Homo sapiens: one gene and its partners. The gene in region 1 interacts genetically with each later gene. Each region holds a gene or a part of one and is shown in the gene's direction. Other genes may lie near its edges. The genes, in order: SMO, KIT, ATM and CHEK1.

Region 1 (8,320 bases):
CTTGCCCACTTGCAGGTAAGTAGGAGAGAGACAAAGGCTGGGAGGAATTTCTTGTTTGCCTCTCACACATTGAATTGAGGGCTGAGAGGAGGAATGTTTTTGGTGATGGTGGGTTATTTTCAGGGACGGATCAGGAAGAATTTCCTTAGAGCTATTTCCAAACTTGGCTGGTAATCAGAGTCAGTTAAAAAGATATATATGGCCGGGCGCGGTGGCTCACGCCTGCAATCCCAGCACTTTGGGAGGCCGAGGTGGGCGGATCACGAGGTCAGGAGATCGAGACCATCCCGGCAAACAGGGTGAAACCCCGTCTCTACTAAAAATACAAAAAAATTAGTTGGGCATGGTGGCGGGTGCCTGTAGTCCCAGCTGCTTGGGAGGCTGAGGCAGGAGAATGGCGGGAACCCGGGAGGCAGAGCTTGCAGTAAGCCGAGATCACGCCACTGCACTCCAGCCTGGGCGACAGACCGAGACTCCATCTCAAAAAAAAAAAAAAAAAAAAAAAAAAAATATATATATATATATATATATATATATATATGTATAGGCTGGGTGCAGTGGCTCACACCTGTAATCTTAGCACTTTGGGAGGTTGAGGCAGGAGGATTTCTTGAAGCCAGGAGTTCGAGACCAGCCTGGGCAACAAAGTGAGACCCCATCTCTAAAAAAAAAAATTAGCCGGGCATGTTGGCACACACCTGTGGTCCCAGCTACACTGGAGGCTGAGGCAAAAGGATCGCTTGAACCCAAGAGGTTGAGGCTGCAGTGAGCCATCCTCACACCACTGCCCTCCAGACTGGGCAACAGAGCAAGACCCTGTCTCAAAAATACATACATACATATAGATATGTGTGTATGTATACACACACACACATATATGTATAGTGAAAATGTAAAATACAGAAAAACATACATGGACCTAAGTCTTTTTTAAAAAAAAATTATCTTTAATTAATTATTTGAGAAATGGGGTCTTGCTGTGTTGCCCAGGCTGGAGTGCAGTGGCTATTCAGAGGCTCACTCATTGTGCGCATGGTGCTTATGGTGCCTGGAATAGCTGGCACTACAGGCATGTGTTCTGTGCCAGCTCAAGTCTTCAATTTTGCTTCAGATCTTTAACTTTTTAATTGTGAAATATAACTGTATGCAGAAAACTGCATAAAACACAAAGGTACTGAATAACAAATAATTATAAAGTGACATCTGGGTCAATAACTAGACCACAGTCAGACCCCTGAAGCTCCCTCTGTGTCTTGTCTAGTCACATCCCCCTCCCCTTGCTCAAGAGGTTTTCAGTAATCACATCCTTTTTTTCTCTATGGTTTTACCTCCTAGTTTTGGAATCCATAAGCAGTATATTTCAGCTTTGCATGTTTTTGAACTCTGTTCAAATGGAATTTGTACAAAATAATATGCTGTGCATATTATTTCTTGCTTCTTTTACTTTATATCATTATGTAAGATTCATCCATGTTATTGCAGCTTATTTCTTTTTTGCTTGTTTATTTGTTTGTTTTTGTTTTTTTGAGACAGTCTCACTCTGTCACCTAGGCTAGAGTGCAGTGGCGCGATCTCGGCTCACTACACCTCCACCTCCTGGGTTCAAACGATTCTCCTGCCTCCGCCTCCCAGGTAGCTGGGACCATAGGTGCACGCCACCAGGCCTGGCTAATTTTTGTATTTTTTAGTAGAGACAGGGTTTTGCCATGTTGGTCAGGCTGGCCTCAAACTCCTGACTTCAGGTGAGCCACCCGCCTCATACTGCAGCTTATTTCTTCATTGCTGAATAATATTCCATTATATGAGTATACCCCCAGTTGTTTACCCATTTTATTGTCATCTCAAGTTTTTGCCCATTGCAAATAACATTGCTGTGAGTAGTCTTTTATGTATATCCTAGTACAACTGGCACAAGTTCCTTCAGGTATATGCTGAAGAAGTAGAATTGCTAGATAATAAGGCACGCATACTTTAGGCTTTTGCCAAACCATTTTTCAAAGTGGTTGTACTAACTTATACTCCCACTAGCTAGTAGAAAGTCAACACTGGTTCACATGATTCCCAACATTTGGTATTATCAGCCTTTTACATTTTTGCCAATCTAGTGGCTATATTGTGGCATATATTTGTGGTTTTAATTTGCACTTCCCTGATTACTAGTAAAGTTAAATGCCTTTTTAAATGCTTACTGGCCTTTAGGGTTTCTGCTTTTGGGAAGTGTCTGTTCAAATCTTTGACATATTTTTCCATAGGGGCTATCTGTCATTTTTGTAAGATTTGTAGGAGTTCTTTATATATGCTAGATATGAGTTTATAGGATTACAAAGGAAATCAATTATATTGACATAATAGTTATCAAATATAAAAATGCAAGTATGTGGGCTTATTTATTTATACAATAAATAAGATCTGGTGCAGGTGTAATAACAACTATAATATCAAAGTGATTATAAGCATTGACATTATTTCAAGATATCTGCAACAAAAATATCTGGTTTCCACTTGTGACAACGCCACAGGTACTATTAACATTATGTACTGTGGGCCAGGCGTGGTGGCTCACACCTGTAATCCCAGCACTTTGGGAGGTCAAGGTGGGCAGATCACGAGGTCAGGAAGTCGAGACCATCCTGGCTAACACGGTGAAACCCCATCTCTACTAAAAATACAAAAAATTAGCCGGGCGCGGTGGTGGGCGCCTGTAGTCCCAGCTACTCGGGAGGCTGAGGCAGGAAAATGGTGTGAACCCAGGAGGCGGAGCTTGCAGTGAGCCGAGATCGTGCCACTGCACTCCAGCCTGGGTGACAGAGTGAGACTCCCTCTCAAAAAAAAAAAAAAGAAAAGAAAAAAAAAACAAAAAAAAATTATGTACTGCGATGTGTTGCTTACATTCATAATTGGAGGAAGGGCCAAATTTTAGTTAGGTGTAATTTTTTTCCCATTGAAATTCATGGACCTCTGAATTTTTCCAAGAATCCTTTGTGAACCATAGGGTAAGAATGTTACTTACAGAATATCACTATCTAGTAGAGAGTCTGAGCTATTCTTGATTGTGTGTGTGTGTGTGTGTGTGTGTGTGTTTTAATAGAGACAGGGTTTGACCCTATTGTCCCGGCTGGTCTTGAACTCCTGGGCTCAAGTGATCCTCCTGCCTTGGCCTCCCAAAATGCTCCTTTGTGTTTTAATATAAAAATACTTGGTGATTTTTTATTGGGATTGCATTGACTATATAGATTAACTTGGAAAAAAAAAGAGACATCTTTACAATACTGAGTCTTCCAAACATTGAACATTTATATATTTCTATTTAGATCTTTCATTTTCTCAATATTCTGCACAGATTTAAATACTTATTATTTGTTAGACATTCCTAGGTACTTGATATTTTTGATGCTGTTGTAAATGATGCCTTTAACATTTATTTCACTTTGTTTGTTGCTGACATATAGAAATAAAACTGGCTGGGCACGGTGGCTCACACCTGTAATCCCAGCACTTCGGGAGGCCAAGGCAGGGGGATCACGAGGTCAGGAGATTGAGACCGTCCTGGCTAACATGGTGAAACTCCATCTCTACTAAAAATACAAAAAGTTAGTCGGGCATGGTGGCGGGCGCCTGTAGTCCCAGCTACTCAGGAGGCTGAGGCAGGAGAATGGCGTGAACCTGGGAGGCGGAGCTTGCAATGAGCCCAGATTGTGCCACTGCACTCCAGCCTGGGCAATACAGTGAGACACCGTCTCAAAAAAAAAAAAAAAAAAGAAATAAAATTGATGCCTTTAACATTTATTTCACTTTGTTGCTGATATATAGAAATAAAATTGATTGTGAATTCAGTAAACTTGCTAAATTTATTCTATACACATAGTCATATAATTTGTGAGTAATGAGTTTTGTTTCTTTCTTTCCAAGTCTTATACCTTTTATTTATCCTTATTGCTTTACTGAAGGCTTCCAGTACATTGTTAAATAGACAAAACATCTTAATTCTTGACTTTTCTGGATTCTAAAAAGAAAGCTTTTTCTACCCTTCACCATTAAATTTGATGTTTGGTATAGGTTTTTTATAGTTAATTACATTTTATCAGATTAAGAACGTTGTCTCTTATTTCAAATTTGCCAATTATTCTTTTGATCATAGATGGATGTTGAATTTTATCAACTTTTTTTTTTGGAGACGAAGTGTCACTGTCACCGAGGCTGGAGTGCAGTGATGCGATCTCAGCTCACTGCAACCTCTGCCTCCTGGGTTCAAGCGATTCTCCTGCCTCAGCCTCCCAAGTATCTGGGACTACAGGCGCATGCCACCACGCCCGGCTAATTTTTTGTATTTTTAGTAGAGACGGGGTTTCACCGTGTTAGCCAGGTCAATTTCCTGACCGTGTGATCCGCCCGCCTCAGCCTCCCAAAGTGCTAGGATTACAGGTGTGAGCCACTGCGCCCGGCTGAATTTTATCAACTTTTTTTTGCATCCATTGAGATGATCATATGATTTTTTTCTCCTTTAACCTGTTAATGTAGTAAATTGCATTGATTGAATTTTCTAATATTAAACCAGCCTTAGAACAGTGATACTCAACTTGACTAGTCATCAGAATCACACAAATAAAAAGTCTTTTTAAAAGTCTAGATCAGCCAGGCGCGGTAACACCCGTATTCCTGTTTCTCTTTTTGTTTCATATTTTATTAAAATAAAAGAAGTAAAATAATACTGATAAAGCTGATATCCCCTCTCTTTCTCGTTTCAGTTTCATATCCTTCTTTTCTCTTTGGAAAGCTTCCCCATCCTAGTAATTTGTGTATTTCTTTATTTTGTTTTTAAGCTCAAGTTTTGTTTTTGTTTTTGTTTTTGTTTTTTTGTAGAGATGGGGTTTGGCCATATTGCCCAGGTTGGTCTCGAACTCCTGAACTTAAGTGATCCACCCACCTTGGGCCTCCCAAAATGCTAGGATTATAGGCGTGAGCCACCATGTCCAGCCTTAAGCTTAATTACTTTTAAAAAATAGGTTATACATGTACATGGCACAGAATTCAAAAGGAACAAGTTAAGTCCTACTTCTGCATCTAGCTACCCATTTTTCCTCTGCAGAAGTAACCACCAACACTGGTTTTTGTGTCCTTTTGGAAATATCCAACATCTGTCCAGATGTAGATGTGCTCTCAGTCTCTCCTCTACCGCCCAACCAGTACCATGCTCTATAGACTGCTCTCCACTCAACTGAGTCCATGTAACATGACAACATTGGACATCATTCCATTTCAATGCACATCCTGTCATGCACCCCAGAAGGAGATTTTGGTTAACAATGGACCACATGTGATGGTGTTCCCTTAAGATTATAATACCACATTTTTACTGTAGCCTTTCAATGTTTAGATATGTTTAGATACACTGATACTCACCGTTGTGTTACAGTTGCCTGCAGTATTCAGTATAGCAACATGCTGTACAGGTTTGCAGCCTAGAAGCCATAGGTTATACTGTATCAGCTAGGTGTGCAGTAGGCTATACCATCCAGGTTTGTGTAAGTACACTCTGATGTTCACACAAAGATGACATTGCCTGATGACACATTTCACAGAAGATATCCTCATTGTTAAGCAACATGTGACTATATCTCAACCCTGAATAGTGTTCTATTATAATGGTGTACATTATTTTACTTGGTTGGTCTCCTATTGATGGATATGGATTCAAGCTGTTTCTACTTTTTTGCTATTGCAAAACAGTGCTGCAATGAATAATCTATATTATCTTTGTGAACATGTGAAGTAGAAGTACTAGTATAAAATTTTGGTAGATAATGCCAAAGTGATCTCCACAAGTGTTTACTAATTTTTATTCCTACCAACAAATATAAAAGTGCCAGTTTATCCCTACACTCTTTATAGTACGGTATTTTCTTTTCTTTTTTTTTTTTTTTTTGAGATAGAGTTTTGTTCTGTCACCCAGACTGGAGTGCAATGGCGATCTCGGCTCACTGCAACATCCGCCTCCTGGATTCAAGCAATTCTCCTGCCTCAGCCTCCCAAGAAGCTGGGATTACAGGCGCCCACCACCACACCTAGCTAATGTTTGTAGTTTTTTAGTAGAGACGGGTTTTCACCATGTTGGCCAGGCTTGTGTAGAACTCCTGACCTCAGGTGGTCCACCTGCCTCGGCCTCCCAAACTGTTGGGATTACAGGCGTGAGCCACCACCATGCTCAGCCTTCTTTATGTTTTTAAAGGCCATTAAATGGCCTTGAGTCCAGGAGTTCAAGACCAGCCTGAGCAACATGGTGAAACCTTGTCTCTACAGAAAAATACAAAAATTCACCAGGTGTGGTGGTGTGAGCCTGTAGTCTTTGCTACTCAGGAGGTTGAGGTGGGAGGATTAACTGAACCTGGGGAGCTGAAGGCTGCAGTGAGCCGTGATTATGCCACTGTACTCCAGCCTGGGCAACAGTGTGAGACCCTATCTCAAAAAATAAAAAAATAAAAAAAACATAAAGAGATGTTCGACCTCACTCTTAATAATACAAATGTGGAATAAACTACAACGAAATATTCTTTTTTTAAACTTTTATACTTTTTATCACAGTGATAAAGATCAAAACATTTGAAAATGTGATCTGTTATTTGTCTTTCGCCTGTGTGTCTATAGAATTATGCAATTTTTACTGATTTGGAGGAGCTTTGTGCATATAAGGAAATTAGCTCTTGTGATAAGTATTGAAAATACATTTTTTCAGTATCTTACTTTTCTTATGATTTTTGTATCGATTTTTCTGAAGTCTTTTGTTTAAATCTTTTATTTCATGATGTGTAGGCTTTGTGTCATTTCAGAAGGCCTTCTCCACTCCAAGGTTTAAAAAATCATTTCCTGGCCAGGCGTGGTGGCTCACGCCGTAATCCCACTTTGGGAGACCGAGGCGGGTGGATCACGAGGTCAGGAGATCGAGACCATCCTGGCTAACACGGTGAACCCCCGTCTCTACTAAAAATACAAAAAAAAAATTAGCCGGGTGTGGTGGCGGGCGCCTGTAATCCCAGCTACTCGGGAGGCTGAGGCAGGAGAATGGCGTGAACCCAGGAGGCGGAGCTCGCAGTGAGCCGAGATCACATTACTGCACTCCAGCCTGGGCGACAGAGCAAGACTCCATCTCAAAAAAAAAAATCATTTCCCATCTTTTCTTCTAAAACTTTAATTTTTAGAAAAACAATGTAGTTATTTTTTTATCCATCTGGACTTTTATGTAAGAAATGGGGTAAAGCTCCACCTTATTTTTTCCCCAGATAATTTCTTAGTTGTCCTTGAAGATGTATTTAATAATCTCTCTTTTTCCTGGGGAGTTTTATTTTTAAGGTATGAAACAATATTCACAATGAGGGAAAAAAAGGAAAACAAATTAGACATTTTTAAAACCTGATTGTTACCACAGATATAAAAAGATTGAGAAAAATTACAGTTTTTTTTTTGTTGTTGTTTGTTTGTTTGTTTTAATGAGTCTTGCTGTATCACCCAGGCTGGAGTACACTGTCGTGATCTTGACTCACTGCAACCTCCACCTCCTGTGTTCAAGCAATTCTTCTGCCTCAGCCTCCCAAGTAGCTGGGACTACAGGCGTGGACCACCACGCCTGGTTAATTTTTATATTTTTTAGTAGAGACAGGGTTTCACCATGTTGGCCAGGCTGGTCTCAAACTCCCGACCTCAAGTGATCTGCCTGCCTCAGCCTCTCAAAGTGCTGGGATTACAGGCATGAGCTACCGCACCTGGCTGACACAACCTTTATTTTTTTTATTTTTCGAGACGGGGCCTTGCTCTGTCGCCTAGGCTGGAGTGCAGTGGTGCCATCTCCGCTTACTGCAACCTCTGCCTCCTGGGTTCAAGTGATTCTCCTGCCTCAGCCTCCTGAGTAGCTGGGATTACAGGCATGTGCCACCACATCCAGCTAATTTTTGTATTTTTAGTAGAGACAGGGTTTCACCATGTTGGCCAGGCTGGTCTCGGACTCCTGACCTTGTGATCCACCCGCCTCGGCCTCCCAAGTTCTGGGATTACAGGTTTGAGCCACCATGCCCAGCCGACACAACCTTTTTATTAACTGCCTGATGTTTCTCTAAAGCATTTTACTCCAGAGAGGTCCCCCCATTTTAAATATATTGTGCAATAAAAGTAAACATCCAGTAAAATTGACTTTTTCTTGTACAGTTCTAAGTTTAGACAAACACATAGACTTATGTAACCAGCCACCACATTGAATTCAAGATAGAGAATCGTCCTTTAACCCCCATATATTCTCTCATGCTACTATTTTGTAGGCAAATCCTGCCCTCAC
Region 2 (8,320 bases), on another chromosome or scaffold:
AGTTAGATCCAAATATTATATGTGTGGCTTATGAAGTGTCAGGAAATAAGGGGTCAGAGGGAGTAATAAACACTTGGGAGAAGGTTAGGAATGGAAAGAATGATGGAACCAAAACAAGGAGCATGGTCTGTGGAAGGGTGAAAGGAGTTCCTTAGGAAGTAAGATTAACCGAACAGAATGAGTTACCAGTCCTACCCTTAAATGTCATGGGTGACATTTCCCAACAATTACCAAACTAAGAAAGGATATAAGATGGCTGAAATAAAGACCTTCTTCCGTGTGTCCTTGGGAGATGTCAGATTGAATTTGCAAAGGCATATTAGGAACTCTGTGAAAGGACATTCAAAGAGATGCATGCAAAATGAATTTTCAGTTTAAACAATATGATATGACTATTTCTTATGTATTTCCCTATGAATGAAAGCAGTCCTGAGAAGAAAACAGCATTTATTAGAATTGCTTTTAAAAGAGATTATAATAATTAGACTCTTGATTATGTGAACATCATTCAAGGCGTACTTTTGATTTTTATTTTTGGTGTACTGAATACTTTAAAACAAAAGTATTGGATTTTTTATAATATAAGCAACACTATAGTATTAAAAAGTTAGTTTTCACTCTTTACAAGTTAAAATGAATTTAAATGGTTTTCTTTTCTCCTCCAACCTAATAGTGTATTCACAGAGACTTGGCAGCCAGAAATATCCTCCTTACTCATGGTCGGATCACAAAGATTTGTGATTTTGGTCTAGCCAGAGACATCAAGAATGATTCTAATTATGTGGTTAAAGGAAACGTGAGTACCCATTCTCTGCTTGACAGTCCTGCAAAGGATTTTTAGTTTCAACTTTCGATAAAAATTGTTTCCTGTGATTTTCATAATGTAAATCCTGTCTAGGGATATCACACATTTTAGCAGTCAAATTAAGTATACTTCAGCAAAATTTGCATGGTATGCTGAACATTACTACAACTAACATTCAATAATAGAAGTCCTAATTCTAATTGTGTAATTTTGGGGCATGTGAAGGAAACAGAAATAGCCTTAATTTTCATTATAGCCTGAGAATAGCAATGAACTTGATTTTGCTCAAGTGTAACAAATGTAGGTCATTGAAGGTCACAGCAGGAGAAATTTTGGGGGGATTGGCATGCCGTGTGAAAAATATTAAAATCTAAGATCATATTCAGAGTTAGCCATATAGAATGTTGGATCCTAGAATACACGGAGAGCTATTAAATAGGTTCATAAGTAATAATGGGTTTGTAGAACATAGCAAATGTTTTTCAAAGTGCTGTATTTCCTTGCCAATTTTTATTGAATCCTCAGAACAAACCCTTGTCCTATAATTGCAGCACCTTCCTATTTTAAAAGTTGGAGAAACTAAGGCATGGCATATTTTAGTGCTTTTTATCTGAGGTGACACAGGACAATAGAGGCTGAAACTAGAGCCTGTGATTTCCAGAGTGGCATCCCATCGCCATGGAAAACCATATTGCCCTTTATAATATTCTCTGCCTGTCTTCCTGGGCCCATTTCTGCAGTCCAGATTTATTCCTGGAGGTGGATTTTTGTGCCCCTTATGATAATGTAATGTTTTCCCCCCATCACTGTGGCGTCTCTATTGGTAGCCTGTACTCGATTTGGTTTTGTAAGAGTGTTTCTGTGTTTATCTCCTGGCCAAAGCATGAATTTCTGAAAAGGCTGCCCTGAAGCTAGATATTATCATCAGGAGTGATAATAAAAACAACTTCTCTTCATCCTGGTGCAATTTTGGAAGGAAGAATGATAAGTCGTTAATTATCCAGTCCTCTGAATATTGACCAAAGGGAGGAGGAAGAAGGTGGCCGCCTCCAGGCCCAGTCTTGATGAATTCTGCAATCTGTCTCCATTATTTCATGCCTGTGTAATTTTGTCAAGAGTTGTCCAATACCTCTGAATCTTTGTTTTTCTCCCCTTGGGAATAATAGTGATTCCTGACTCAGAAAGTTATGAGTTAATATATGTAAAGTGCTTATGACAGTGCCAGACATATTGTTACTATTCTTTATAGATGTCTTATTTACGATCTAAATAATCGTGACGGTGGTTACATACTGTCTTGTTATTGGTTAGTGACCTTAGTTTGAAATGACAAAGAGGGGTTGGCTCTATCAGGCTTCCAGATTGTAGACTCCAGTTCAAGTCAGTTGAACTAACCAATCACAGATCTCGCTTTCACCAGGCTAGTGGGTAAGGAGAATTTCTGGAACAAGATAAGAAGAAGGAAACTCATATATGTTACCGCCCCACATTTTTGTCATCATCATTTGAGATCTCCTTGTTGTGTCAGGTTCTCTGAAGTTCTTTCCTTTCACATGAGTTCTTCATTGTTTTTCATGTCATGGCCCCTTTTAGAGCCTGGTAAAGCCTATGGGACCCTTATCAGAACACTGTTTTCAACGCCTATGATGAAATACATAGGAATACCAAGGAAAACAGTTAAATCGAAATAGCTATGAAGATACTAAGTAAATTTGTGATATGTCAGTACATGTGTTTACTATAGAGTGTAACAGGCTCTGTTAGGTTGGTGTAAAAGTAATTGTGGGTTTTGCTATTTTTTCTAAAAACCACTGTAATTTTAGAGTGGTGATTAATGTAAATATGATTTTGAGATACCTATAAAGACTTAATAGGATATGAAGATATTTATGATTACTGTTCATGACAAAGTCACAGGTACAGCTGATACTACTGCGTTTTATCACCTTTGTTAGTAATTTAAAGAAATGCTAAATTTCATCTAGAAATTAGCGAAAATAAGGATGTCATTTTTCCTTTCCAAGTTCACAGGCCCCTGAATTTGACACCCATAGATCTCAGGTTAGGAGCCCTTATAGGAACTTTAGCACAACATCTAGGAAGGGAAGGGATATTGGAAGTTTTTTGTTTTGTTTTTGTAAGCTGACTAAAATAACTTTAACACCAAAAAAAAAAAAGAAAAAAAAAAAAAGCTTTCCCAGTTTTCAATCCTAAATGGATTAAGAGAAGGATTGATTTAGCTTTTTATGGCAGATTAAGATTGGGAATCCAGAATGCATCTAAAAGGACTAGTTACAGAAAGTTTAGCTCAACTTTAATGGAGAGAGTTCTCCAAAGAGTCAGGATCACAAGCCACTACTGTTTATCAAGTACTTGCCTTTCTTCTAGGCAATTTTTCAGATAGCACTGAGTCAGGCGGTGCTAAGCATTTTTACCCATTTTATCTTATTTAACCCACAAGACAATTCATAAAATTAAAAGTATTCATTTTGTTTTACAGAAGAAGATACTGAGGCTTAATTACAAATATTTTAGTGACTTTCCCAGTGTATTAGAGAAAGTTTTGGGTTTTGACAGAAAACCCAAAATAAAAGAAGTCTAGGAGTAGACTTTATACCAGGATTGGTATAAAGGTTCCATGGAGTACCCGGGCAAGTCTTTCCTTTCCATGCTTAGCCATTCCTGAGTGTAACCCCCATGTCCATGGTCCAAGATGACCACCAGGTGGATAGCCAGCCATCATATCCAGAAGGCAGGGGGCCCTTGCACTAGAGAAGAGAGGGCAGAGGGCACGTGCCAGCTATATTGTAAGGAGGTTTTCCTGAAGCTGCTATACAGCACTTACAACTTAGTGGCCAAAACCGAGTCACCTAACTACAGCTAGCTAGCTGCAAAGGAGGCTGGGAAATGTAGTCCTAATTGTGAGAGGCCGTGTTTCTGTTTTTAAGGAAGGAGAGGGACATATTCAGTGGAAACTAACAAATCTCTGCATTACCTAAGGCCCATGGTGGAGCCAGGGCTAAAATGTCTGGCTGTCTCTGACGTTTGTGCTCTTAATCTCCATGCCGTACTGACATAGTGCTCACATCTTAAAATGGGGATAATGCACTTGTGAGCCATGTATTTCAGAGGTGATTGGGATCATCTGAGTTCATATAGGTAAAAGGTTTTTGTGAGATGGTACTCAAGTTATCACTCCACATTTCAGCAACAGCAGCATCTATAAGAATATCTTCTGTTCAATTTTGTTGAGCTTCTGAATTAACATTATTGACTCTGTTGTGCTTCTATTACAGGCTCGACTACCTGTGAAGTGGATGGCACCTGAAAGCATTTTCAACTGTGTATACACGTTTGAAAGTGACGTCTGGTCCTATGGGATTTTTCTTTGGGAGCTGTTCTCTTTAGGTAAAATGATCCTTGCCAAAGACAACTTCATTAGACTCAGAGCATCTTCTTGAAGTTTCATTGGTGTCCTGCTTCCTTGTGATTAACACTGCTTTGCAAACTGTGTCTCAGGAAGCAGCCCCTATCCTGGAATGCCGGTCGATTCTAAGTTCTACAAGATGATCAAGGAAGGCTTCCGGATGCTCAGCCCTGAACACGCACCTGCTGAAATGTAAGAGCCAAAAAATTTTTCCTTTAGGTCACGTTTTCCCTTTTATTTTTCTTTTTAGAGACAGAAACCCAGATGTTGAGGGTTTTCATAACACAGTTTGAAATGTCACTTGGATTCTTTATGACACACTGGTCAAATGTCATTTCTGTAGTTTATTTTCATAATCTCTTGTCACCAAAAATACAGAAAGTTTCAGTAATATTTCATACATGCAGTGTTTTATGTTATCTATATGTCAGTCCATATGTCCAGTTGCATAGCCCTGGAATTATTACTGAAGTTGCTGGATGCCCATACATTTGAAAACAAGCTGAGGGCATTGAGGAGGGATAGTAAATGGCCCTTGTCTTGCAGGTATGACATAATGAAGACTTGCTGGGATGCAGATCCCCTAAAAAGACCAACATTCAAGCAAATTGTTCAGCTAATTGAGAAGCAGATTTCAGAGAGCACCAATCATGTGAGTATACCCTGGCCAGGCATAGAATCCCCCTTCTCCCAGTTCCAGGTGTGTCCTCCTCCTCAGGCTTTCAGGGTGAGGACTAACCTCCCAACCCCTTCTCTCCTAATCTTAGGTTGCAAATTGGGCTTCAGGTAGGGGAAGTAAAGCAATGGAAACTAGTTCTTTCTGCCCAGCCCTCCTGTTCTGAGCCAAAGAAGGATGTGAGATTGAGGGGGAAGGGTGGAGAGTTTTGTACTCACTGGAAGTAGAAGTTTCCATAAGGATTTGCCATGTTTCCTCCCTCATCTCAAATGCTGGTCACGGGGTCAGTATTTTCTCCCTCTCACATGTCAGGGCCATGCATCCTTTGGAGGGTTGGGGTGATGTGAACTAGAATAAAAGCATAGAAAAGACAGCTTGTTACTGCAGTGAAATAAGCCTTCTGATCAAACAAGCATAGCCAGAAAATGGCAGATAGCTGTCATGCCCACAAGCCATATAGAATGAAGAGCTGTTTGAAGTTGGGAGATCCCTCCCAGTGATTTGGGAAGTGTGGGGGAATGAAAACTCAAATCCATTATTTCCTCTCTTTTTAAGCAAGAATTAGTGATACTTTGACTCAGATTTTTTTAAGCTGCTTTCTTTCCTGGGCTGTGTGCTTGGAGCTATCTTTTCTTTCCTAATAGCACACCACTGATAATTTTTGGGTTAAAGCTTGTTCTTCTGGGTGTCAAAACATGTTTCAAATTGAACAGCATTTTCCACCCAGTTGCTTTGATTCTTGACAAGAGACCCCTGGAAGGGCCGTGGGTTTCCCAGCAAATTACATTGGTTATTGGGTTGTAGTTGCTGGAGAGATTTACAAGCCTTTTAAATAGGTAAGATAGTGCTTGGTGCCTGGTGTGCCCTTTTAGAAGAGCTAAGCTTGTGCATGTTTTGTCCCCACTTCTTGTATAAAGTTATTTCCTTGGAAAAATGAAGGGGGAAAACAAAGCTTATATTTGTTTTGTCAGTATGACTTGGGTTTTGGCCACAAAGTTCTTGGAAACCACTTCTCTCTTAAGAGTTTCCATCAGTTAGTTGTGATCTTGACACTGTAAGTATGCCTTTTGTTGCTATGTTCGTTGTAGGGACTGCTGTATTGACTATGGGCTTGTTTTCTCCAGATTTACTCCAACTTAGCAAACTGCAGCCCCAACCGACAGAAGCCCGTGGTAGACCATTCTGTGCGGATCAATTCTGTCGGCAGCACCGCTTCCTCCTCCCAGCCTCTGCTTGTGCACGACGATGTCTGAGCAGAATCAGTGTTTGGGTCACCCCTCCAGGAATGATCTCTTCTTTTGGCTTCCATGATGGTTATTTTCTTTTCTTTCAACTTGCATCCAACTCCAGGATAGTGGGCACCCCACTGCAATCCTGTCTTTCTGAGCACACTTTAGTGGCCGATGATTTTTGTCATCAGCCACCATCCTATTGCAAAGGTTCCAACTGTATATATTCCCAATAGCAACGTAGCTTCTACCATGAACAGAAAACATTCTGATTTGGAAAAAGAGAGGGAGGTATGGACTGGGGGCCAGAGTCCTTTCCAAGGCTTCTCCAATTCTGCCCAAAAATATGGTTGATAGTTTACCTGAATAAATGGTAGTAATCACAGTTGGCCTTCAGAACCATCCATAGTAGTATGATGATACAAGATTAGAAGCTGAAAACCTAAGTCCTTTATGTGGAAAACAGAACATCATTAGAACAAAGGACAGAGTATGAACACCTGGGCTTAAGAAATCTAGTATTTCATGCTGGGAATGAGACATAGGCCATGAAAAAAATGATCCCCAAGTGTGAACAAAAGATGCTCTTCTGTGGACCACTGCATGAGCTTTTATACTACCGACCTGGTTTTTAAATAGAGTTTGCTATTAGAGCATTGAATTGGAGAGAAGGCCTCCCTAGCCAGCACTTGTATATACGCATCTATAAATTGTCCGTGTTCATACATTTGAGGGGAAAACACCATAAGGTTTCGTTTCTGTATACAACCCTGGCATTATGTCCACTGTGTATAGAAGTAGATTAAGAGCCATATAAGTTTGAAGGAAACAGTTAATACCATTTTTTAAGGAAACAATATAACCACAAAGCACAGTTTGAACAAAATCTCCTCTTTTAGCTGATGAACTTATTCTGTAGATTCTGTGGAACAAGCCTATCAGCTTCAGAATGGCATTGTACTCAATGGATTTGATGCTGTTTGACAAAGTTACTGATTCACTGCATGGCTCCCACAGGAGTGGGAAAACACTGCCATCTTAGTTTGGATTCTTATGTAGCAGGAAATAAAGTATAGGTTTAGCCTCCTTCGCAGGCATGTCCTGGACACCGGGCCAGTATCTATATATGTGTATGTACGTTTGTATGTGTGTAGACAAATATTTGGAGGGGTATTTTTGCCCTGAGTCCAAGAGGGTCCTTTAGTACCTGAAAAGTAACTTGGCTTTCATTATTAGTACTGCTCTTGTTTCTTTTCACATAGCTGTCTAGAGTAGCTTACCAGAAGCTTCCATAGTGGTGCAGAGGAAGTGGAAGGCATCAGTCCCTATGTATTTGCAGTTCACCTGCACTTAAGGCACTCTGTTATTTAGACTCATCTTACTGTACCTGTTCCTTAGACCTTCCATAATGCTACTGTCTCACTGAAACATTTAAATTTTACCCTTTAGACTGTAGCCTGGATATTATTCTTGTAGTTTACCTCTTTAAAAACAAAACAAAACAAAACAAAAAACTCCCCTTCCTCACTGCCCAATATAAAAGGCAAATGTGTACATGGCAGAGTTTGTGTGTTGTCTTGAAAGATTCAGGTATGTTGCCTTTATGGTTTCCCCCTTCTACATTTCTTAGACTACATTTAGAGAACTGTGGCCGTTATCTGGAAGTAACCATTTGCACTGGAGTTCTATGCTCTCGCACCTTTCCAAAGTTAACAGATTTTGGGGTTGTGTTGTCACCCAAGAGATTGTTGTTTGCCATACTTTGTCTGAAAAATTCCTTTGTGTTTCTATTGACTTCAATGATAGTAAGAAAAGTGGTTGTTAGTTATAGATGTCTAGGTACTTCAGGGGCACTTCATTGAGAGTTTTGTCTTGGATATTCTTGAAAGTTTATATTTTTATAATTTTTTCTTACATCAGATGTTTCTTTGCAGTGGCTTAATGTTTGAAATTATTTTGTGGCTTTTTTTGTAAATATTGAAATGTAGCAATAATGTCTTTTGAATATTCCCAAGCCCATGAGTCCTTGAAAATATTTTTTATATATACAGTAACTTTATGTGTAAATACATAAGCGGCGTAAGTTTAAAGGATGTTGGTGTTCCACGTGTTTTATTCCTGTATGTTGTCCAATTGTTGACAGTTCTGAAGAATTCTAATAAAATGTACATATATAAATCAAG
Region 3 (3,553 bases), on another chromosome or scaffold:
CAATTTTCCTGCCAATTTAGGAAGTAGGACATAGTAACTATTAACAGCCAGTTTATTTTTAGAGTACTATGGAAATGATGGTGATTCTCTAATTAGGATATTGTAAGAGTACCATGTCTATATATTTCCTTTTAGTTTGTTAATGTGATGGAATAGTTTTCAAATTATCCTTTTTTTTTTTTTTTAGGCTACAGATTGCAACCCAATTAATATCAAAGTATCCTGCAAGTTTACCTAACTGTGAGCTGTCTCCATTACTGATGATACTATCTCAGCTTCTACCCCAACAGCGACATGGGGAACGTACACCATATGTGTTACGATGCCTTACGGAAGTTGCATTGTGTCAAGACAAGAGGTCAAACCTAGAAAGCTCACAAAAGTCAGATTTATTAAAACTCTGGAATAAAATTTGGTGTATTACCTTTCGTGGTATAAGTTCTGAGCAAATACAAGCTGAAAACTTTGGCTTACTTGGAGCCATAATTCAGGGTAGTTTAGTTGAGGTTGACAGAGAATTCTGGAAGTTATTTACTGGGTCAGCCTGCAGACCTTCATGGTAAGTTCAGCATGCATTATGTCTGACTTACAGATAAACACACACAGACACACACACACTCACATATCCCTGATCATTTTCATAGTTTGTTACTTCAGTTAAAGATGTCAAATTCTATTTCAGATGCTTTTCTTGTTTGGCCGAGAAGACTTAATAAATGCATAAGTGAATTTAGTTTCAAATGTTGACAAATTATTAAAGACTAATGTTAAGGAATTTCTTTTTTAGTTAAAAAATTTTTAATTGATCTATAATAGAGTTATATATTATCAAGGTACATGTGATAATTTGACACACTCATATGACACACTCATGTAGGGTGATGGGATATCAGCACCCTACGTATCTTTTCTTCATGCTAGGAACGTTTGAATTATTCTCTTCTTGCTGTTTGGAAATGTACAATAGATTAATGTTAACCGTAGTCACCCTACTGATGTATCGGACACCAGGTCTTATTCCTTCTAATTGTATACGTGTATCCAAAAGACTTTCTTTAAAGAATTATGAAGAGTTTAAATTTCTTTTATGTGCAATTTATCATTATTTATTAAATAGCCATGTTTAAATTGTAGTACTATGCACTGTTAATAAACGAGCTATTTTTTAATCAAGAATCTTCCCAAATGTAATCAGACTTTTAACAGTTTTTATGTTCATTTAGTCACCTTAACTAAATGTATGTGCCAGGCACTGTCCTGATAGATAAAGTCTTTGCCCCTCCAATAGCTTGCTTTTCACAATTGTCCTTTGTTTTGTTATAGTCCTGCAGTATGCTGTTTGACTTTGGCACTGACCACCAGTATAGTTCCAGGAACGGTAAAAATGGGAATAGAGCAAAATATGTGTGAAGTAAATAGAAGCTTTTCTTTAAAGGAATCAATAATGAAATGGCTCTTATTCTATCAGTTAGAGGGTGACTTAGAAAATAGCACAGAAGTGCCTCCAATTCTTCACAGGTAATTTAAGTTCATTAGCATGCTGCTGTTTTTTTTGTTTGTTTTATCAGGCTCTCTCCACTTATTTGATGCCAGATGGCTTTATTTTATAATAATAATGCAGAATTTCCCAGATCTAACCTTAATTATTAAATATTATGTTTGTTTTTACAGTTATCTGTGTCTTTATGCCTGATTGCTTCTGAAATAAAGGGTTGTCTCACTGTGAGAATATGGGGGATGTGCATGAAAAATGCACATATAATTCTTTGAGCATTTATGTGTTCCTTTCTGATTTTTTAAATAAGTAAGTCCATATATTTGAGTCATGTAGATCCTGGATCCTTTCTCATAATGGGAGTGTCTTTTGGGTAAAAGATGTTTTATGAATGAGGTGAGGAAACGAGGAAGACAAAACAGGATGTAAGCACTAGGATAAAGGAATGGAGTCCCTCGTCCACTTAACCTTTCCACAGATTGGTAATTGGAACCAAATGATTGGAGAGCAGACCTCCGAATGGATCCAATTAAAGTACTTTTGCTTTAATTTTACAACCTTTTATTTATTTCAGAAATAATGTTAAACATGCTGTTTCTAAACAGTATTGGAAATGATAATAACAATGGTTGTCCTCCTTAAATTGTCCTTTTAGATATTAAGAAATTTAGTATAGATGAAAGCAATTTTAATCTAGGATCCAAATTTTAGAAGTCAAGATTTATAGCTAAACATGGATGTTAAAGTTTAAAGTATTCTTTACATGGCTTTTGGTCTTCTAAGTGAAGCTTTTTGTTTTTCTTTGTAGTAATTTTCCTCATCTTGTACTGGAGAAAATTCTTGTGAGTCTCACTATGAAAAACTGTAAAGCTGCAATGAATTTTTTCCAAAGCGTGCCAGAATGGTATGTTATCTAATAATGCTCTTTATCATTTTAAGCTATAGCTTTAATTACAAAGATGATAATTTTAGCTGGGTAGTAGCTGCATCTTAATAATTGTAAACTAAATTGGTCCAAAAAAATTGCAACTGTTAGCCAGGGAAGAGGTTGTTTTAATTCAGTGATTGTAATCTATGTTATATAACATTAGACCAAGCTTACTATTTTTTAATGCTGTATAGTATAATATGTGACAAGTGCCAATGAGAAAAACTGAATGGTTATGCTGGGAAATTAAGAATATAAAATTTATATGAAATAAGTTCTTAAAGATGTTACCCATTTCTGTACATCAACTATGATTTGACTATTTGTTAGCTTTAAAAACTAATGATAATTGAAAACAAAAATAAATCTAAACCTGAGTTTAGTTGATTGACTCAAGAGACTTAGATTGTATTGCTGTGACTGAAAATGACTCACTGGCACAAACATTCCTTATCTCCCTCAAGAGGGCAAAAGGATGCGTAACTGCTTACCTATACCAGATGTTAAAGGTTTTTAAACCTATGCTCTTTACTTCCTCTGCTTGGTGAAAAAAGGGATATGTTTGCAGACAATGTTATGCTTAACATTTATATCTGGTGTTTTTAAAAATACTTTCTGAATTTGCCTTTGAGATTGTAACTTGTATTTTTTCTCTATCTATTAGTAAAATTTGCTACTGAATAATGACATTTGATATAAGTAGGTCTCAAAGTCCGAAGAAGAGAAGCATTTAAAAGAATAATCTATTAATTATATAAGTAGTCTTTGAATGATGTAGATACTAGGTTAATGTTTTCCTTTGTAATATATTGCTAATACATATAAGGCAAAGCATTAGGTACTTGGTTTATATATTAAAGATCTTACTTTCTTGAAGTGAACACCACCAAAAAGATAAAGAAGAACTTTCATTCTCAGAAGTAGAAGAACTATTTCTTCAGACAACTTTTGACAAGATGGACTTTTTAACCATTGTGAGAGAATGTGGTATAGAAAAGCACCAGTCCAGTATTGGCTTCTCTGTCCACCAGAATCTCAAGGAATCACTGGATCGCTGTCTTCTGGGATTATCAGAACAGCTTCTGAATAATTACTCATCTGAGGTGAGATTTTTTAAAAAAAGAACTAAG
Region 4 (8,320 bases), on another chromosome or scaffold:
AGAGGAAGCAGAGGCTTTGAAGTCATGGCTTGCATTCTTGATTTGGATATTGGTTTTCTCTTTATAATTTTTCTGTGATGACGCCTTTTGCCACCTAACACAGGTAAATGTGAGTTAAGCCCCATATGTGTTAGTGGACTCCTGAATCTTTTGTTGGCATTTGCTTCTGTTTGCCTAAGCACATTTGTAAATGTCTAAGCTTCAAATTAAGAAGCTATGTGGTTGCTACCTGATTATATTTAGTCAATAAACTTACTTTCATATTTGTTTTAGAGCCAGACATAGGCATGCCTGAACCAGATGCTCAGAGATTCTTCCATCAACTCATGGCAGGGGTGGTAGGTATAGTTGTCTATTTCCCTTTTACTTAAAATTAGAGTGAATACATTACATTACCAAATTCTAGTGTGTTTCTCTCTGCATCCCTCTTAGGTTTATCTGCATGGTATTGGAATAACTCACAGGGATATTAAACCAGAAAATCTTCTGTTGGATGAAAGGGGTAAGTTTAGCATTTTATCACTACCTAAAATAAAATAAAATAATTACCTAAATTATTTTAATTACCTAATTATTTTAATATAGCCATACAAGGCAAAATCAAGTCTTTTTGCATTACTGGAATTTCAAGACAAGATCTGAAAAATCAAGGAAATTTTGGAGACTTCGTATATTTGGAAATCACAAGTCTCATTTTGCAATACAAGTGCGGATCAGGTAGAGAAATCTGACCTAGGTGCAAGCCTAGCTCACTATATGTATAAGAATAATTTTTTTTTTTTTGATACAGGCTCACTGTGTTGTCCAGTCTGGGGTGCACTGTATTATCACAGTTCACTGCAGCCTTGACCTCCTAGGCTCAAGCAATCCTACCATCTCAGCTTCCCGAGTAGCTAGGACCAACCACAGGCAGGTGCCACCATGCCTGGCTAATTTTTGATTTTTTGAAGAGGTGGAGTCTTCCTGTGTTGCTCAGGCTAGTCTTGAACTCCTGGACTCAAGCAGTTTACCAGCCTTAGCCTCCCAGAGTGTTGGGATTATAGACGTGAGCCACCATGCCTGGCCAAGAATAGTTTAAAATAATCCTTTAATGGATTAATAAAGGGAAGTTCCTGTGGAATACCCTGGACCTTAGTCTTGTCCTGTTCACTCTTTTTTTATGTATGACGTGGATAAAAATGTAAGAAATTTAGTTATATTTTCTGAATGTCATCAAATTGAGAAGGATGGATAGCGAAAGCTTTAAGCTTACAGGGTCAGAATCAAAAAAGAAATGTCAGCTGTATGAGGCAGTAGTTTTTGTCTGGTTTAATGCTTTATTCTTAGTATTAGAATAGTGCTTAACAAATGGTCAGCTTTTTTTTTTTTTTGAAACAGAGTCTTGCTGTGTTGCCCAGGCTGGAGTGTAGTGACATGATCTCGGCTCACTGTAACCTCTACCTCTCTGGTTCAGGTGATTCTTGTGCCTTAGGCCCCTGAGTAGCTGGGATTACAAGCCTGAGTCACCACACCTGGCTCATTTTTATATTTTTAGTAGAGATGGGGTTTTGTCATATTGGCCAGGCTGGTCTCGAGCTCCTGGCCTCAAGTGATCTGCCTCCCTTGGCCTCCCAGAGTGCTGGGATTATAGGTGTGAGCCGCTGTACCCAGCCTATACATGCTTTTTTCTTATGTGCATATGGATTTTACTTTTTACCCCTTTAAACTGAGTTTATATGACATAAAAATCTTTATTTTTATTTAAAACTTTAAAAATTCAGGTACACAAAAATTCTTATGTATTATAATGAAATGTAAATATATGTATATCAACCCACCTGGTTTAAAAATACAACATTATTCGTATATAAGAATGCTCACAGTGGTGATGTTTTTAATATAGCAGGAAACTAACCCAAATGTCTGTCAACAATAAATTATGAAATGCATGGCTTTTCAAGCCATGTCACAAGCAGTGACACAAGCATGTCACAAGCAGTGACATGGATGAATTTCAGGTATATAATGATGTAGAGCAAAAAGAGACAGTTGCAAAAGAATTCATATGGTCTGATTCTGTTTATACAAAGTTCAAAAATATGTAAAACCTAGTATATTGTTCAAGTATGTAAACATGGAGAAAAAAACATGCAGAAAAGCAAGGGTATAATAAAACCAAATTCAGAATGGTCTAAGAAAGTAGGGGAGGGAATGTATTTAAGGAAGTATTTAAAGATTTCAAAGGAAATAGAGCATTGTTTTTCTAAAGTGAGTGGGTGTTTATTACATTGTTATTCTTTATATCTTGTATTAATATACAAGATATAATTCTTTGTTTCTATTTAATATTTAGGAGTCTTTTAAAAAAAGAAATAAAATGTTACCAGTATTTAATGTCCTCCTGTTTATTTCATCACAAATATATTCTTCCTTTGTTTTTCTAAGAGCTAAACACATTCCTACATTTAAATTTTATTATGTGCAGTTCTCTAACATAGCTGAGTATTATGTTGCAGACATAACAAAGTCCAAGGAATACTATAGTTATCCATTAGTATTTTAAGTGATTACTACTCATAAGTAATTTGAAACTCAATCTCAGTGGTTTGTCCAATAGTGTCATATTTAACTACTGAAAAGATAATCAACTGGGTGCAGTAGCTCATGCCTGTAATCCCAGAGGCTGAGGTGGGACGATTGAGTGATTCTAGGAGTTTGAGACCAGCCTAGACAACATAGACCCTGTCTTTATGAAAAATTAAAAAAAAAAATTAGCTAGACATGGTGGTGCACACCTGGAGTCCCAGCTACTTGGAAGGCTGAAGCAGGAGGATTGATCACTTCAGCCTAGGAGGTCAAGGCTGCAGTAAGCTGTGATCACATCACTACACTCTAGTCTGGGCAGCAGAGTGAGACACTTTCTCAAAAAAAAAAAAAAAAAAAAAAAAAAAGGGTAATCACAGTAGCTACCTCCTAAGTCAGATAGAGGTAAACATTTCATTGGTTTACATATTGTGTGAATGTACTTGATTTTTAAAGAAATCAGTCCCCTATTTTGAGACATTTAAGTTGTTTCTAACTTATAAAATAGGACAGTGATGGCTTCTATCAATTTGTGTAAAAGGCCAATATAAAAATTGCGTCATGCTATAATATTTTTTATGCTATAATATTTTTTATGCCATTAGCCTTTTTGTCCCACTTACACACTATTTCATGTTAGTATGTATAGATATACCTTGTTGATTGTTTTCAAAACCTACCTCCACATTTTCCATTGTACAAATTTGGACATTTATTTACAAATAATATTGCTATGAATATTCTTATGTTTATGAATTTGTGGGATTATTTCTATGGATATAGAAGTGGGAATTGCTAGTTCAAAGAGTGAATGTTTCACAGTTTAGTATGTTTTGCCAAATTGCCCTCTGATAATAGAGGGCCTTTTCTAACTCTTAAGACTGGGTTACATTCCTTTGCTCTAAGATCCTATAGTGCTCTATATTTTTATAACCTTCATAACAGTTTTCTATTGTCAGTCTTCACTAATTTATCTATTACCTGCATTGGCTGGCATAGTGTCTGTCACTAAGTTACAGTAGATATTCACTAAACATAAGTTAAGTCCTGCCTGCAGTTTTTGTGTGTTGAAGATGGGAAGTTAGGGTGGAAGTTGGGTCTTCTGATATTTTTTTTTTGTACAGAGTTTGTCCTCTTTTTCTCAGACTCTCTACTTTGAAGAAAAAAATTACTGTGGTTTGTTGAATTTTGGTGTGTCTTCACATATTTTCTTCTGCCAACTGGGTTTGTTTGCTGCTGAGAAAGTTGTGCCTAACATACTACTGATGTTTCCTTCCTGCCCTCCACCCTACCTGATGAGGGGCCTTGCTTTACTTTCATCTCAGGTTTAGAGTGCTCTTTTCCAGAAGGGCAGCCCCTTCTGACTCCAGCCTCTTTCTTTAATCTGGTCCAGACTGTTCTGTGTGTTGATAATACTTCTTTTAAGTTAATAGAAGAGGTGAGGCCTTTTTCTACTTTTAGCATAGATGATGATTTATTTTATTTTTTTAAATTTCTTTTTGTCTATTTTGCTTATTTTAAGAGAAGTTCTACAAACCTTAAGTAACACCAGTGATTTTTTTTCAGTAAAACTTAATTCCTGTAAGTATATCTATTTGCAAAACATTTTTATTCAGTGTCATCTTTTTTTCTTTTGGTTTAGATAACCTCAAAATCTCAGACTTTGGCTTGGCAACAGTATTTCGGTATAATAATCGTGAGCGTTTGTTGAACAAGATGTGTGGTACTTTACCATATGTTGCTCCAGAACTTCTGAAGAGAAGAGAATTTCATGCAGAACCAGTTGATGTTTGGTCCTGTGGAATAGTACTTACTGCAATGCTCGCTGGAGGTAAGAGCTATTTAATCATGGTAAAACTCCTATAAAAAGTCAGATTAGTTATACTGAAATAAATGAAATAAACCAAGGAATTCATGTTTATATAATAGTTTTTGTTTTCTTTTTTAAGAGACAGGGTCTCACTCTTGGCCAGACTGGAGTACAGTGAGCTGTTATAGCTCACTGCAGCCTCAAACTTCTAGGCTCAAGCAATCCTCTGGCCTCACTCTTCCAAGTAGCTAGGACCAGTGGTGCCTGCCACAAGACATCTGGCTAAGTTTTAAAAATTCATTGTAGAGATGGGATCTTGCTGTGTTGTCCAGGCTGGTCTTAAACACCTGGTCTCAAGCAAGCCTTCTGTCTTGGTCTCCAAACTGTTAGGATTAAAGTAAAGACATGAGCCATGGTACCCAGCTTTTATAGTAGTATTTTAATAGTGTCTTGATCGGTTTGGTAACTGCTGTAACAAAGTATCATAGACTGCATAGCTTATAAACAGCAAATTTATTTCTCACAGTTCTGGAGGCTGAAAATATGAGATTAGGGGTGCCAACCTGGTCATGTTTTAGTGAGGGCCCTCTTCCTGATTTGCAGATGGCTGTCTTGCTGTGCTCTCTCATGGTGGACAGCCAAGAGAGCAGAAGCAAGCTCTATTGTGGTTTTTTTTTTTTTTTTTAGACCAGAGTCTTGCTCTGTCACCCACGCTGGAGTACAGTGATGTGATCTCAGCTCACTGCAACCTCTGCCTCCCAGGTTCTAGCAATTCTGTCCCAGGCTCCCAAGTAGCTGGGATTACAGGCATGCATCATCACACCCGGCTAATTTTTGTATTTTGAGTAGAGACAGGGTTTCACCATGTTGGCCAGACTGGTCTCAAACTCCTGACCTCAAGTGATCCCCCAACCTCAGCCTCCCAAAGTGCTGTTTTTTGGGTTTTTTGTTAAATGACCAGATGTTGTGAGATATTGTGTCTGTTTTTTGTTTTTTTGTGGTTTTTTTTGAGACAGGGTCTCACTCTATTGCCCAGGCTGGAGTGCAGTGGCACAATTCAAGGCTCACTGCAGCCTTGAGCTCCCAGGCTCAAGCGATCCTCCTGCCTCAGTCTCCTCAGTATCTGGGTCTACAGGCGTGCACCACCACACCTGGCTAATTTGTTGTGGGTTTTTTTTCACAGACGGTCTCTCCATGTTACGTAGGCTGGTCTTAAACTCCTGGGCTCAAGTAATCTGCCTACCTAAGCCTCCCAAAGTGCTGGGATTATATAATTAGTGCCCTATAAAGATACAATATTGTCCGGGCACACAAGCCCTTATTAGACATTAATAAGCTCTTAATAAGAGCACTAATACCATTTTTTGAGTGGTCCCATCACCAGGACCTAATTACGTCTCAAAGGCCCCACCTCCGAATGCCATTGCATTATGAGTTAGGATATCAACATGACTTTTGAGGGGGATACAAATATTTAGCACATTGCAAATAGTAACTTATTTATAATCCCAAAGATTTTTTAAGCTAAGGCATGCATAGTTATTAAATATCACAACACTTATCTCTCCTGTGTATCATGTAAACATTTGTGAAAACAAGACTAGGGCAAGAAATGATTCATCTGTTTTTTGGTTTTTTTTTTTTTGAGACAAAGTCTTGCTCTGTCGCCCAGGCTGCAGTGCAGCAGTGTGATCTTGGCTCACTGCAGTCTTGACCTCTTGGGTTCAAGTGATCCTCTCACTTTAGCCTCCTGAGGAGCCAGGACTACAGATGCACACCATCACGCCCAGCTAATTTTATTTATTTTTTGTAGAGATGGGGTCTCACTATGTTGCCCAGGCTGGTCTTGAACTCCTGGGCTCAAGCAGTCCTTCTGCCTCAGCCTCCCAAAGTGCTGTGATTACAGGCCTGAGCTGCCATGCCTATCCTGATTCATCTATCTTTGAAGTGCCTCTAAAGTTTCCAAGTTGGGATTCTTAGTGTGAAAACCATATTGAATTAATTCAAAGGAAACTTTTCATGGATTTATATTATTATTTTTCCTTGAAATCTTTATAATAAGAACATTTAAAAAAACTGGGACTTGCTTTGTTTTTAGAATTGCCATGGGACCAACCCAGTGACAGCTGTCAGGAGTATTCTGACTGGAAAGAAAAAAAAACATACCTCAACCCTTGGAAAAAAATCGATTCTGCTCCTCTAGGTAACTGAATTATCTTGAGTGAAAGAGTACCGATTTCTTGGATATGAAGTCTTGTGCTATTTGAATTTTTTCTTACTTTTTTTTTTGTTTTAAACTTACAAATAATTCATGTTCGTTGTAGATAAAATAGTAACTATAAGTAAAAAATTAAGGAAAAAATAACTCTTTAGTCCCAGAACTCTGCAATAGATTTTTAAAAATATTTTGGGGAGTGTATATTCAGAGCAACTTGAATCTGCTCTTAGATGGCTTTTTACTTAAAGTTTTCATATGTGCTATACTTTGTTGCAAATACACTCGTTTGTTGCTTAATTATAGGGATGCACTCTAACAAATGTTTCATTAGGTGGTTTCATCATTGTGTGAACATCATAGAGTATATTTACATAAATCTAGATAGTATAGCTTACTATAAATCTAGGCTATTTGGTATACCCTATTGATCTCAGGCTGCAAACCTGTACAGCATGTTACTATACTGAGCACTGTAAGGAATTGTAACATAATGGTATTTGTGTATCTAAGTATAGAAAAAGTATAGTAAAAATACAGTATTATAATCTAATGGGACTGTCTGTTATACGTGTGGTCCATTCCTGACTGAAACATCATTAATGTGGCCCATAAGTATGTAAAATGAATATATGTATATTATTTATATGTGTTTTTATACAAAATGAGATCACACTAATAATATTTTGTAACTGTTTTTGGTTTTAGTGCGCAGCGAACATTCTTCCATGACTATAATTGTAGGTCTACATCGTTGGTTTAAAGGCTGTGATAATATTCTGCCATGTGGATATGCCTTACTTTACTCTTTTAATCACTTTGTTGGAGATTTTTCTAAATTTTCACAGATACAAAAGAGATATAAGTATCTGTGTAACTTAATCATGACACATACCCTTAAATTGTTCATTGAAATCCCCAGAAGCAAAATTGCAGGATCAAGGATGTAGTTTTTATTATTATGGCTTATTTTGTCAAATTGCTTCCCGAAAGTTCGAACCATTTCATCACAGTCTCATCAATTTACATTAAGGAAAAAAACTTTAAATAATAGTTTTTCATTTTTATTTTAAATTTAATACTAATGAAGTTGTATACCCTTTATGTATGTATTAGTTTTTTGTCTATTTTGCTCATTTTTGTCAAGGATATTGTTTTTCTTACCACTTTGAAGCTTTTTTTTTTCCTTGATAACACATTGACCTTTGCACTTGTTACAAATACTTTTCACAATTTATCATTTATTTTCATTTTGTTTTGCTATATTGACATTCAAATCTATTATCTTGTCCTTTGTGGTCCCTGACTATAATTTCTTTGGAAAGGTCTTCTACCTCTACTATTTAAAAGTTCCCTATGTTTTCATTTAGTGTTTTTATGGCTTCATTTTTCCATTTAAATCTTTGGTCCATTAGGAAATAATCTTCACATAGGAAGATACGTGAATTTTTTCTCAAGAAAATTAAGATACCTTAGGATGGTTAGTTAGATTACTGTCTCTTAAAAAGTTATTGGTAAGTAAATGTTCATTATAAAACTGTGTGAATAAGGAGGTCACGTGAGAACATGACATTGAAGTAATGAAATTCGGTATTGAAAATGGATAAGAGGGGTTTCTGTATCTTTTTGTTAATCTCGTCACATGAGGAGAAACATTTCCATCTGGCTCTTGTTCTCAGTTGCAAACAATTGAGAATCAGATCAGGGAAGACTACTCCAAGATACAGCAGCAG

Evidence for each region.
Region 2: changes in SMO (region 1) and KIT together harm fitness less than expected from each alone (positive genetic interaction), as found in Homo sapiens cells (one large-scale study listed by BioGRID).
Region 3: changes in SMO (region 1) and ATM together harm fitness more than expected from each alone (negative genetic interaction), as found in Homo sapiens cells (one large-scale study listed by BioGRID).
Region 4: changes in SMO (region 1) and CHEK1 together harm fitness more than expected from each alone (negative genetic interaction), as found in Homo sapiens cells (one large-scale study listed by BioGRID).

Annotation. Positions count from the first base shown.
Region 1 is NC_000007.14:129,193,277-129,201,596, forward strand, and holds part of SMO (protein smoothened precursor), read left to right. Parts: intron 1-8,320. UniProt on the Homo sapiens protein: G protein-coupled receptor which associates with the patched protein (PTCH) to transduce hedgehog protein signaling. Binding of sonic hedgehog (SHH) to its receptor patched prevents inhibition of smoothened (SMO) by patched.
Region 2 is NC_000004.12:54,732,397-54,740,716, forward strand, and holds the end of KIT (mast/stem cell growth factor receptor Kit isoform 1 precursor), read left to right. Parts: intron 1-673; coding exon 674-796; intron 797-4,101; coding exon 4,102-4,213; intron 4,214-4,324; coding exon 4,325-4,424; intron 4,425-4,778; coding exon 4,779-4,884; intron 4,885-6,032; coding exon 6,033-6,161; 3' UTR 6,162-8,319; downstream 8,320-8,320. UniProt on the Homo sapiens protein: Tyrosine-protein kinase that acts as a cell-surface receptor for the cytokine KITLG/SCF and plays an essential role in the regulation of cell survival and proliferation, hematopoiesis, stem cell maintenance, gametogenesis, mast cell development, migration and function, and in melanogenesis.
Region 3 is NC_000011.10:108,250,514-108,254,066, forward strand, and holds part of ATM (serine-protein kinase ATM), read left to right. Parts: intron 1-187; coding exon 188-559; intron 560-1,323; coding exon 1,324-1,518; intron 1,519-2,303; coding exon 2,304-2,399; intron 2,400-3,300; coding exon 3,301-3,526; intron 3,527-3,553.
Region 4 is NC_000011.10:125,628,959-125,637,278, forward strand, and holds part of CHEK1 (serine/threonine-protein kinase Chk1), read left to right. Parts: intron 1-273; coding exon 274-338; intron 339-432; coding exon 433-502; intron 503-4,204; coding exon 4,205-4,393; intron 4,394-6,470; coding exon 6,471-6,575; intron 6,576-8,320. UniProt on the Homo sapiens protein: Serine/threonine-protein kinase which is required for checkpoint-mediated cell cycle arrest and activation of DNA repair in response to the presence of DNA damage or unreplicated DNA.